Linked DNA regions of Homo sapiens: regions 1 and 2 are each reported to be linked to region 3. The links are microRNA targets in miRTarBase. Many come from high-throughput screens and were not tested one by one. Region 3 holds a microRNA gene; each other region holds the end of a gene's coding sequence.
The links. The annotated mature microRNA hsa-miR-3655 reads GCUUGUCGCUGCGGUGUUGCU and lies in region 3 at 1,482-1,502, shown strand. An mRNA with a match to its seed (bases 2 to 7 or 8) in the 3' UTR can be bound and repressed. Matches are read on the target gene's strand: a 7mer-m8 pairs with bases 2 to 8, a 7mer-A1 pairs with bases 2 to 7 and ends in A, and an 8mer does both.

Region 1: miRTarBase lists WDR37 as a target of hsa-miR-3655. Seed matches in the 3' UTR shown: 7mer-A1 at 467-473.
Region 2: the mRNA of ATP5F1C is a reported target of hsa-miR-3655. Seed matches in the 3' UTR shown: 7mer-A1 at 2,950-2,956.

Annotation. Positions count from the first base shown.
Region 1 is chr10:1,128,885-1,132,140 of GRCh38, reverse strand. It overlaps WDR37 (WD repeat domain 37), which reads right to left. Exons shown (of 14, transcript NM_014023.4): 14 at 1-2,928. The coding sequence ends at 2,797. Among named protein-coding and RNA genes, the nearest start is that of LINC00200, 29 kb to the left of the region's middle.
Region 2 is chr10:7,806,703-7,809,958 of GRCh38, reverse strand. It overlaps ATP5F1C (ATP synthase F1 subunit gamma), which reads right to left. Exons shown (of 10, transcript NM_001001973.3): 9 at 2,949-2,985; 10 at 2,158-2,300. The coding sequence ends at 2,979. It overlaps LOC105376392 (a long non-coding RNA gene), which reads left to right. Exons shown (of 3, transcript XR_001747356.1): 2 at 1,417-1,495. Among named protein-coding and RNA genes, the nearest start is that of TAF3, 10 kb to the left of the region's middle.
Region 3 is chr5:140,646,363-140,649,618 of GRCh38, forward strand. MIR3655 (microRNA 3655) reads left to right here and starts at 1,482; the gene lies at 1,482-1,564. It overlaps NDUFA2 (NADH:ubiquinone oxidoreductase subunit A2), which reads right to left and starts at 1,268. Exons shown (of 3, transcript NM_002488.5): 1 at 1,121-1,268; 2 at 894-1,000. The coding sequence starts at 1,221. IK (IK cytokine) reads left to right here and starts at 1,467. Exons shown (of 20, transcript NM_006083.4): 1 at 1,467-1,562; 2 at 2,109-2,175. The coding sequence starts at 1,547. It also overlaps a transcript of TMCO6 not described here. RefSeq lists enhancers at 846-1,265, 1,006-1,541.

The DNA.
Region 1 (3,256 bases), not on the chromosome of region 3:
TTTTAATGAATTTCATATTGCAATGAAGACAGTCAACACTTAGAGACAATTATATCGATACAATAAAAACTGATTCCATGGAACACTTATAAATGCATACATTTTCCTCCAAAGAAATATGTTTTTCACAGACTTAAGTAACAAATGATTTACATAGGATTCTTCAGATTCCAAAATATGTACAGAGTTTTTGTCTCTACAGAAACTGATGAGCAGTGGTTGAAAAAGAGTTGCTTTGCCCAACAGCATGGCTCTTATGAAATTCTGTATCATATACAGTTTTCAGTAACCACACATTTTCCGTCTATCATTAAATGAAATTCTGGACACATCAGCATACAGGACAAAACTGTTCCCACTTCCAAACACTGTTTCAGACGAGATCACGTGTGGTTGACAGTATGACTTAATTTAGCCACACACACGTGCACACACACACACACACACACACACACACCATCCCCGATCTTGTCTGTGACTCCTGATCACCACGCTGCAGCAGCAGTGGATGAGCTCACATTAGAAGACGACACAGCAGCGAACAGCAAGGTGCCCCGGCTCCTGAGAGCTCTGCCTGAGCACCACAGGGCTGCGCCCCCAAGGACATGCAGGAGTCCAGTTTCTGAGGTCCCTCCAGTTTGCCAGACAAGGTGAGCAGCTGTGGCAGTAAAGGGCACCAGTGTGCCTGGAACTCAGTGGCCACTAGGAATATTGACTTTTAAAAGCTTCAAAAATGTTTAATCTGGCAGAGATCTGGTTCTTAAGTTTGATTTGGCTATTTGCAGCCATTTTTCAATGTTCCTAACCATCATCCTAAGACACCCAGACTTTCAAATTAAACTCCGAGGAACCCAAGCAGGTGGCCTGTGCAGTGGCCCCAGAAGCTGCCCTGGGCTCAGACCTTTGTATGTGCAGTGTGGGAGGCTCTGGCAATTGGACCTCCAGCCAAGAGAAAAAGTGAGGCCCCAGCAACATCTGGACACAGCACAGCCCTGCATCAGGCAAGTTCGCTCAGGACAGCAGGAGCTGAAACCTGAGATTCTAATCAACCAGAGGGACCAGGTGGACTCCATTCTCAGAACAGTGCAGTCAGGAAATAATGTCGGACAAAAACACAACACATTTTTTATTTGTAAAATCAAAATGACTGAAATATTTGCTGTTTGTCCCTTAGCCACGTCAGATCCATCTGAGGTGGTTATGGGTTTTTCTTGGGCCCGGGGCTGTCAGTCATTTCAGGGTCATTCTAGATGACTTAGATTCGAAGCTCCTTGGACCAGCTCCTGAAGACCCAAGTAGGGAGGTGCCTCTCATCCCTGGCGAGCTGCACCAAAGGACGGGTCCAAAAGTCCCACGTCCTACTGCACCTGCACCTACCGGTCCCCAGATGGGTTCCCTCCTACCTCACCGTAAAACAGGGCAAAACACAAAGACCTGGGGATGTCACATGACAGCTGTAAATATTACCTTCCTGTGTCTCTCCAAGTGGTGAGCCTCCAGGTGGACGTATTGAAAGGACTGAATATACAAGACACAGGAAATGAGAGCCTCTTTATCAAAACTGTAACTCAGCAAGAAACATTAACGTACAGATACCAGGTGAGCAGTAATTTCCAAGAAGGCAAGAACACCAGGCTCACTCAGCAGTGGCGGGACTGGCACTGAGAGGCGTCCCCACCACAAGACCTGGAAGTGTCTCGTCACCGGGGCCTGCTGGCTGCAGCCGTCAGCTTGTGCGCCTAAGTGGAGAGCCTACACCTTCAGGACACGTCGGTGTGACTGTCTTTCCTGCCTTCTGAACTGAACTCAGTATTCCAGCTATAAACCAAAGTGCTCCAGCCAGGCAACAGTGAGACCCAAAGTTTCCCAAAGACCCGTCTCTGAGGTAGTGTTGTTGGCTCTCAAACACCACCACGGGAGTGAGCCCATTCGGAAGCACACAACCGAGGTGCGGAGAATTAACTGGGCTCTGTGTGCAGGCGGCCTCTTATCAAGGTCAAGTGACATTCAGTGGACAAGTCATTTGAAACATCTAAAACCTGTTTATAACCATAGCTATAAATTAAAGTGCTTTACATTTTGCTTAATATTTGAAATCAGTGATTAGAATCCTATTTCAAAATTTGCTAGCATGAGACCTCGGGAGACTGAAATGATTTTCTATAAAAAAGCAGAAAACTTTTCTTTCCTAAAGAAACTCCAAATGGTGCAAATCCAACATCCCATGCTTTTTTTTAACTTCTAAACTCCAGGTTACCTTTGCAGAACTGTAACAGAAATTAGAGTAGAAGCTGACTACACGACAGCACGTGCTGAACTTCACGCGAGGTAAACACAAAATCCTGGAGCAATCCTGCTGGTCGCCAGCCAACACAGGCAGCCCCACAGTCTTCCCAGCAAAGGCAGATACGTACAGTTACTCCAGGGAACGCAGGACTGCCGACGCCGCAACGTAATACAGAAGTTCACATTTAATTCACACAAATGTAATGCCCTACTGTTCACCTGTCCAATGTCAACAACTCACAAGCATTTCATGTGCTACATGGGAGGTGAGCTTTGCCTCTACTGCCCAGAGGACCCAATATACATACATATACAAGACAAAAGTAAAAAATACGACCACACATTTCTCTGTACATTTCATGCAAGCTGGGCACTATGTGAAAAGAACATATACAAAGCACCCTTTCCAGGGTCAAACTCTCACAAAAATGGCTGATTAATACGCAGAAAAGCCTGCACCCATCAAAGGTCTGTGCTGGCAAACAGTGAAACTAAGGGCTGCCGGTGTCCTTATTTTTCTTGTAGCAATGCAGGGATGTTGATGTTCCAACCAATGGCTTGCCGGTCAAACCCACAGGTGAACAGATTGCACACGGGGTGGTCTTCACTCCATGCCGAGCAGCATACCATTCTCCTGTGGCCCTAGTGATGATCAAACAAACCAAAATCAGTGCATTATTCCCGAAAGTAAGATTATAAGACCTCAGCGAAATGAATAACCACATCACTCAAAGTACGTAAGTTATAGGAAAACAACATGGTGTGCAGGATCAGTCCCATGGACCACCGAGCACGGACCACCAAGCATGGACCACAGATCATGGACCACCGTGCATGGGCCACAGATCATGGACCACCGTGCATGGGCCACAGATCATGGACTGCCGAGCACCAACCACCGCCGAGCACGGACCACCGAGCACCCCATGGACCATAGAGCATGGACCACCAAGCATGGACCACTGAGCAG
Region 2 (3,256 bases), not on the chromosome of region 3:
AGAAGTTGGGGGAAAATTTCAAGCTTACTCTTTGATTCCTTCCTACATGTCTAAACCACACAGCATGGTACACTCACCTTTCCAGATTTATCTTGCCTTTCTCGTTCTCTGTATTAGCAGTTTTCAGAATGTGCATTTGAACAGATTTTGGTCTTTGCTTTTTCTGCTTCCTTGGCCTGAAATGCCTTCCCTCCCCACCAGTTAGCTCTAGTAGTTTAATTTCTACTGTTGGTCACTGGTCCTTGAGGACTGTTTAGACCTCCCTTCCTCCAAGCTGGACGGCCTTCTCAGTCCCCTTCATCTGTCCCCAAATTGAGTCACTGTCCCTCTTGTGGCTCACCAATTGTAACTTACCACATTCTGTCATTTGCTTGTGTTCCCTCCAGACTGTAAGCTCCTGCAAGGAGGCGTTTTGTTATTGTATCCTCAGAGAGTCAGAGTGCCAGTACACAGAAGAGCACCACTAAAGGCTACAGGGAGCTGATGATTAATTTTACATAGAGCAGACATTTAACCAAGAATATAGCACTTACTCCCTGTCAGATTCTCGATATTTTAAAATATTAGCTCATTTAATCCTAACAATCTTTTAATCTCCATCTTATAGATCATAAAACTGAAAGATTAAGTAACTTGCCCAAGGTCACAGCTGTTAAGGGCTGAGCTAGTATTCCAGTTCAGACACAGATTATTCTTACTTATGTTGACTGATTTCAAATTCCTGCTTTTCCTCCTTCCATGATGTCTAGGACACTCAAATCACCCTCACAAATGTGTTCTGCTCTCCTAGAAACTGGAGGTGGGTCAAGCCAAGCTTAGAAGCAAAATACAAAACAGGATGGGCATGGTGGCTCACACCTGTAATTCCAGCACTTTGCAGGGCTAAGGAGGATCACTTGAGCCCAGGAGTTCAAGACCAGACTGGGCAAAATAGCAAGACCCCATCTCTAAAAAAAAAATTTTTTTTTAAATTAGCCAGGTATAGTGGCGTGCACACACACACACACACATACACACAGCCTCCAGAGGCACGTGGTTCGTTGCTAACATTCCCAAAAGGTATCTTGTACTGGTTCACACTACACCTCCATCTGATTCCTCAGTTGTGAGCTGTTTCTTTCTCCTAGTCTCAGCCACCAACCCCTTCAGAAGTGGCTCCTGAAAACTTTGAGGGGAGTTAGAAAATGACTTTGAAGCTCTGGTCAGTTCACTGAACCTTTTTATTCATTACCACGAATATAGCTGTAAATATTTAAAGAATCCATTCTAAATACATGCATTCATTTGTTTTTAAAAGAGGAGCTTGTTAAGAATGGGTTTTATATTGTTTATAATTTTATGTATTTTGGAATTTATATATTACTTTTGTAATTAAAAAAAACCCAAAAAACTAAGTTATCAATTTTAAACAAATAGGGAAAAGCCTGAAATTTTGGCATGGCCAACTCAGAGTGTGGAGTCAACGCAGGCATCTAATCTTAATTGTGATCTAAATGTGAGTATCGTACTTTTCTCAGTGTTTAGAAAAGATGTTTTAAATAATTTAGAGTAAGTATATGCTTGCAATTTTGTATCCAGAATTCCAAGCAAATGCTTCCTGTGGCATTTTTTTTTTTTTTTTGGAACAGAGTCTTACTCTGTTGCCCAGGCTGGAGTACAGTGGCGCGATCTCAGCTCACTGCAACCTCTGCCTCCCAGGTTTAACCGATTCTCCTGCCTCAGCCTCCTGAGTAGCTGGGATTACAAGTGTGCACCATTTTTGTATTTTGTTTTGTTTTTAGTAGAAACAGGGTTTCACCATGTTGGCCAGGCTAGTCTCAAATTCCTGACCTCCAGTGATCCACCTTGAGTCTCAGTCTCCCAAAGTGTTAGGACTGCAGGCATGAGCCACCGTGCCTGGTCTTGTTGACTGTTCTTTAAGGCTGTAATAAGGCACAGAACTGGGCTGAGGCTGTGGCTGCAGCCCTTTCCCTCTACGTTGTCCCCATAGAGGCTAGACATTTTAAGGTCAGTGGAGCACTACCAAATCAAAAGAGCCTCTTAAATTGTCTTCTACTAAAAAATTTTAATAGTAGCATATTAATATTTTTAAATGTTTTAGTATCATCTCATTTCAAAAACTATATCTATTGTTCTTATATATAAGAAAAACAATGATTTTATTTTAAGTTGTTTATTTTAAGATAATTTACAAATATCTTGCTGTCTTCAGTAATTCAAATAATGGAGGAACAGTTTCTTCGGACAAAGGCAGCAGTAAGCTAAAAACAAAATCAACTGGCTGAATTTTCCTTCTTTACCTGAAAAACAAAGTACAGAACAAGTAAGAAATCAAACAGCATTTTTTGGGAAAATAATGTCAAGAGATAATAATACATATTTAAGTGGGGTACAGAGAACTGAATTTACACAATAAAGTGTTACCCTATACCAGTGATTCTAAAATTTTGGTCTGGGGAACCTTTCATGGGGTTCATGAGGTCAAAACTATTTTCATGATAATGTTATTTTGCCTGTTATATTCTCATTCTCGAGTATACAGTAGAGTTTTCCAGAGGCCACATGATCCATGACATCACAACAAAATGAATAGAGACAGATGAAAATCTAGCTGGCTTCTGCTACATGAATCAGACATTAAGGGGTCCAGAGACCATAAAGTGTGACAACCACCACTCTTCACAACCTATATATAATATCTCAAAATAATGTTAATTCTCTATCCTCAAAGTTTATTTCCTTATATCTACATTTTCTATGATCAACACACTCACTACAAAAAAGTCCACTAGCGTTGCCCAGGTGCTCCCGTGAGTTGGCTGCTACTGTGAAGTGGCCCATCCATCTAAATCTCTCAGAGGACAATTCTAGGATTACTAAATTAGCTTAACTTATATCTGAATAGGTTTCTTTTCTGAACAGACATGGGAAGAATGTGTGAACTTTACCTCTTGTCTGAGGATGGAACTTGATTTTCATTAATCCCTGGTTATTATATTAGAAGAAAAAGACAAACACAAAACAAGCAGGTCAAGAAGCAATCCATGCTAGTTAATCACATATGCTTTCCAATGAAAAAAAGTCAATTGTTAAACTTGATACCTTGAGTACATCATGCAAAAATACTTACCACAAGATTCCTTTGAAACAGACTCAATGACTGTTATAAAAAGTCATAGATTTCAATCCAGGTTAGAAGCAATAAAAACATGCTCATGCAAGTAGGCAAGACTATGAATATGTAATTTAAATTACA
Region 3 (3,256 bases):
ATACACTAAAGTTACTCGTGTCTATCTCCTCCTGTAGTCTACTGGCTTTTGGAAGGAGAAGCTTTTTTCCTTCTCCAATTATTAGTGCATGTCTAATGTCTACTGTGTCTCACAGATATCTACTCTGAGAACCAATCTGCTTAAGGTGGTCACTCTCCTCCACCTCCTCCCGTCATTCCCAGGGCACCATATAGTTAAAAGCTGTGATTAAAATCCTGTTATTCAGTATGTATAAACATTTATTGCATACCTACAATGTGTTAGGCAACATGATAGGAAAATTTCATTTTGCAATACATTGCCATGCCAGTCTTAGAGGGGTAAGTGCATTCTAGGAAGGGGAATAAATGTAAAGGCTCAATCCTGTTAAACTCTAGCTGCATCTAAAGTTGCAGCTAGAGTTTAACAATAGTGCAAAACAAAGTTTTGATTCCGTTTTCTAATCTCTACAGTGAGAAAAGAAGAACACGCTTCCTCCTAACTAATGAAGATTAAATGAGTTAGGCAGGGAAGCACTCAGCACAGGGCCCAGCTCTATGTGCAAAATTACTGAGATTCTCACACACTACCTGGACTGACACTGGCTACACGTTATTTGGAGAAACTATATTGACTAACTTCTCTCCTGTCTGAAGCCCATTCTTAACTACAAAAACGTCAGCTCCTGGTCCCTACGCAGGATTCGGTCAGCCTGCATACTTATGTTGCCCGGAATACAACGCATCATATAACCCTGCGAATATAAATTTCTTCATGGAAACAAGATCAACAGCAAGGCTAAAGTCCGAGTTCTAGTTTCTCCACGGGTTTCTGCACGACCTTGGGCGGTCCCTTCTCTTCTCAAACCCTTGTTCCCCTACCGGAGCCCCAGACCCCTGGCGTCCCGCACTCACCGTAGCGGGCCCAGAGCTTGGGCTGCACATCGGAGCATTCGCGGATTAGGATGGGTAGGTCGGGATTCGCCTTCTTCAGCTCCACGTAGCGTTTCTCAATGAAGTCCCTGCGGGGCCGGAGAGAGCGCCGCGCGTGCTGTGGGCGGGGGCTTCCCTCAACTTCAGGGAGGTCGAGGTCGTGACCCTGGCGTCCCGAAGCCCGCCCGCCTCACCACGCCGCGCCTCACCTGACGCCCTGGCTGCCGGGCGAGCGCTGACATAAGTGGATGCGAATCTCACGCAGGCCCAGCTTTGCCCCGACTCCTCGACTTGCTGCGGCCGCCGCCATCCTTGTTAATATCGAAGTCGCCAATTCCAGGTCTTCAGGCCAAGTGCTCCGGTCTGACCAACCGCGGACCCTAAAGCCTAGCCCATAGGCTGCATGAGGCAGGGGCGGGGTAAAGCTTGGCCAATGATATAAAAGTATTGTAGGACCGCTGCGAGGTCAATTTCTTTGCGCTCGGGGTTGGTCGGAGGGAAAAACAGGAAGCGGAAAGGCTGCGAACGCAAAGCAGTGTGGGTTGATTCTGAGGTGCACTGTGGGAAAGAGCTTGTCGCTGCGGTGTTGCTGTTGGAGACTCGATTGTTGGTGACAGCGAAAGAACGATAACAAAATGCCGGAGCGAGATAGTAAGGCTCAGGCCATCCGTTATTTCTTCCCCATGGCACTTGGGGCACTTGGCGCATTATTGTAGCTTCTGAGCTTAAGCCGGGTGTGTGTGTGTGTGTGTGTGTGTGTGTGTGTGTGTGTATGTATGTATGTGTGACGCTTGAGCCCGGAGAAGCCACAGGGTCCTAAGTGAGGCCGACAGCTCCAAACTCCGTCCCCAGTCCTCACTCCTACTCCAAGTGATGATGGGCGGCTTTTGTGCGTGGATCGCTTTCCCCCAGTCCTGTCCCCATACTTAATCCTGGGTTGCGCGTATTTATCTTTTACGTAGTATTTTAGACGTGATCTTCCGGAAGTCTTCTCTGATCCTCCAGCGCAGGATTAGGGTCCTCTGCTTTGTGCTCCCACAGCTTCTTGTAGTTTCCTATTTCAGCACTTATTACATTGTGTTGACACTGTCGCTGTTCTAACTTTTGTTCTGTATTGTTCACTACTATATCTCAAATTTTTGCATAGGATCTGACACGTAAGAGACTGATTAAATTAACGTCAATTTTTTTTGTCAGGTGAGCCGTTCTCCAACCCTTTGGCCCCCGATGGCCACGATGTGGATGATCCTCACTCCTTCCACCAGTGAGTATTTTGTGCTAGGACCATGGAAATGAGTTGGGCAATGAATAGAAAAGTGGTGGTGATGGTGAAAGAATTCTGAATGTCTTGTCATCAAGGATGGTAAAAAATTATACCCGCTGGCCCTTTATCTCTGTGAGCCTTAACTGGATCAGGCCAAGTGCATAAGGGTATTAGAAGGGAAATTCCTGCAGGAAAGGTGTTAAGTTTTTTTTTTTTTTTATACGTGTTGTGTAATTACACATTATATAGGAATTACTTCTTCCAATAGCAAATTAAAACATAGGAAATAAGGGTAAAATCATCTTTTTATTTTTTTTGAGACTGAGTTTCGCTCTTGTTGCTCAGGCTGGAATGCAGTGGTGCGATCTCGGCTCACCACAACCTCCGCCTCCCGGGTTCAAGCAATTCTCCTGCCTCAGCCTTCCGAGTAGCTGGGATTACAGGCATGTTCCACTACGCCCGGCTAATTTTGTATTTTTAGTAGAGATGGGGTTTCTCCATGTTGATCAGGCTGGTCTTGAAATCCCGACTTCAGGTGATCCACCCGCCTCTGCCTCCCAAAGTGGTGGGAGTACAGGCGTGAGCCACCGTGCCTGGCCCCCGATAAAATCATCTTTGATAACATCCCCAATTCCAGTCCATTTCTTTTTTTTTTTCTTTTCTTTTCTTTTCTTTCTTTTTTTTTTTTTTTGAGACGGAGTCTCACTGTTACCCAGGCTGGAGTGCAGTGATGCAATCTTGGCTCACTGCAACCTCTGCCTCCTGAGTTCAAGCGGTTCTCCTGCCTCAGCCTCCCAAGTAGCTGGGACTACAGGCATGTGCCACCATGCACGACTGATTTTTTTTTTTGTATTTTTAGTAGAGACAGGGTTTCACTGTGTTCGTCAGGCTGGTCTTGAACTCCTGGCCTGAAGTGATCCACCCGCCTCAGCCTCCTAAAGTGCTGGCATTACAGGCGTGAGCCACCGTGCCCAGCCTCAGTCCTTTTCTTAGAAGTAACCACAGTTACCTTTTTTGGCATATCTTTTCCTCCCGTTGCCCAGGCTGGAGTTCAATGGCATTATTTCTGCTCACAGCAACC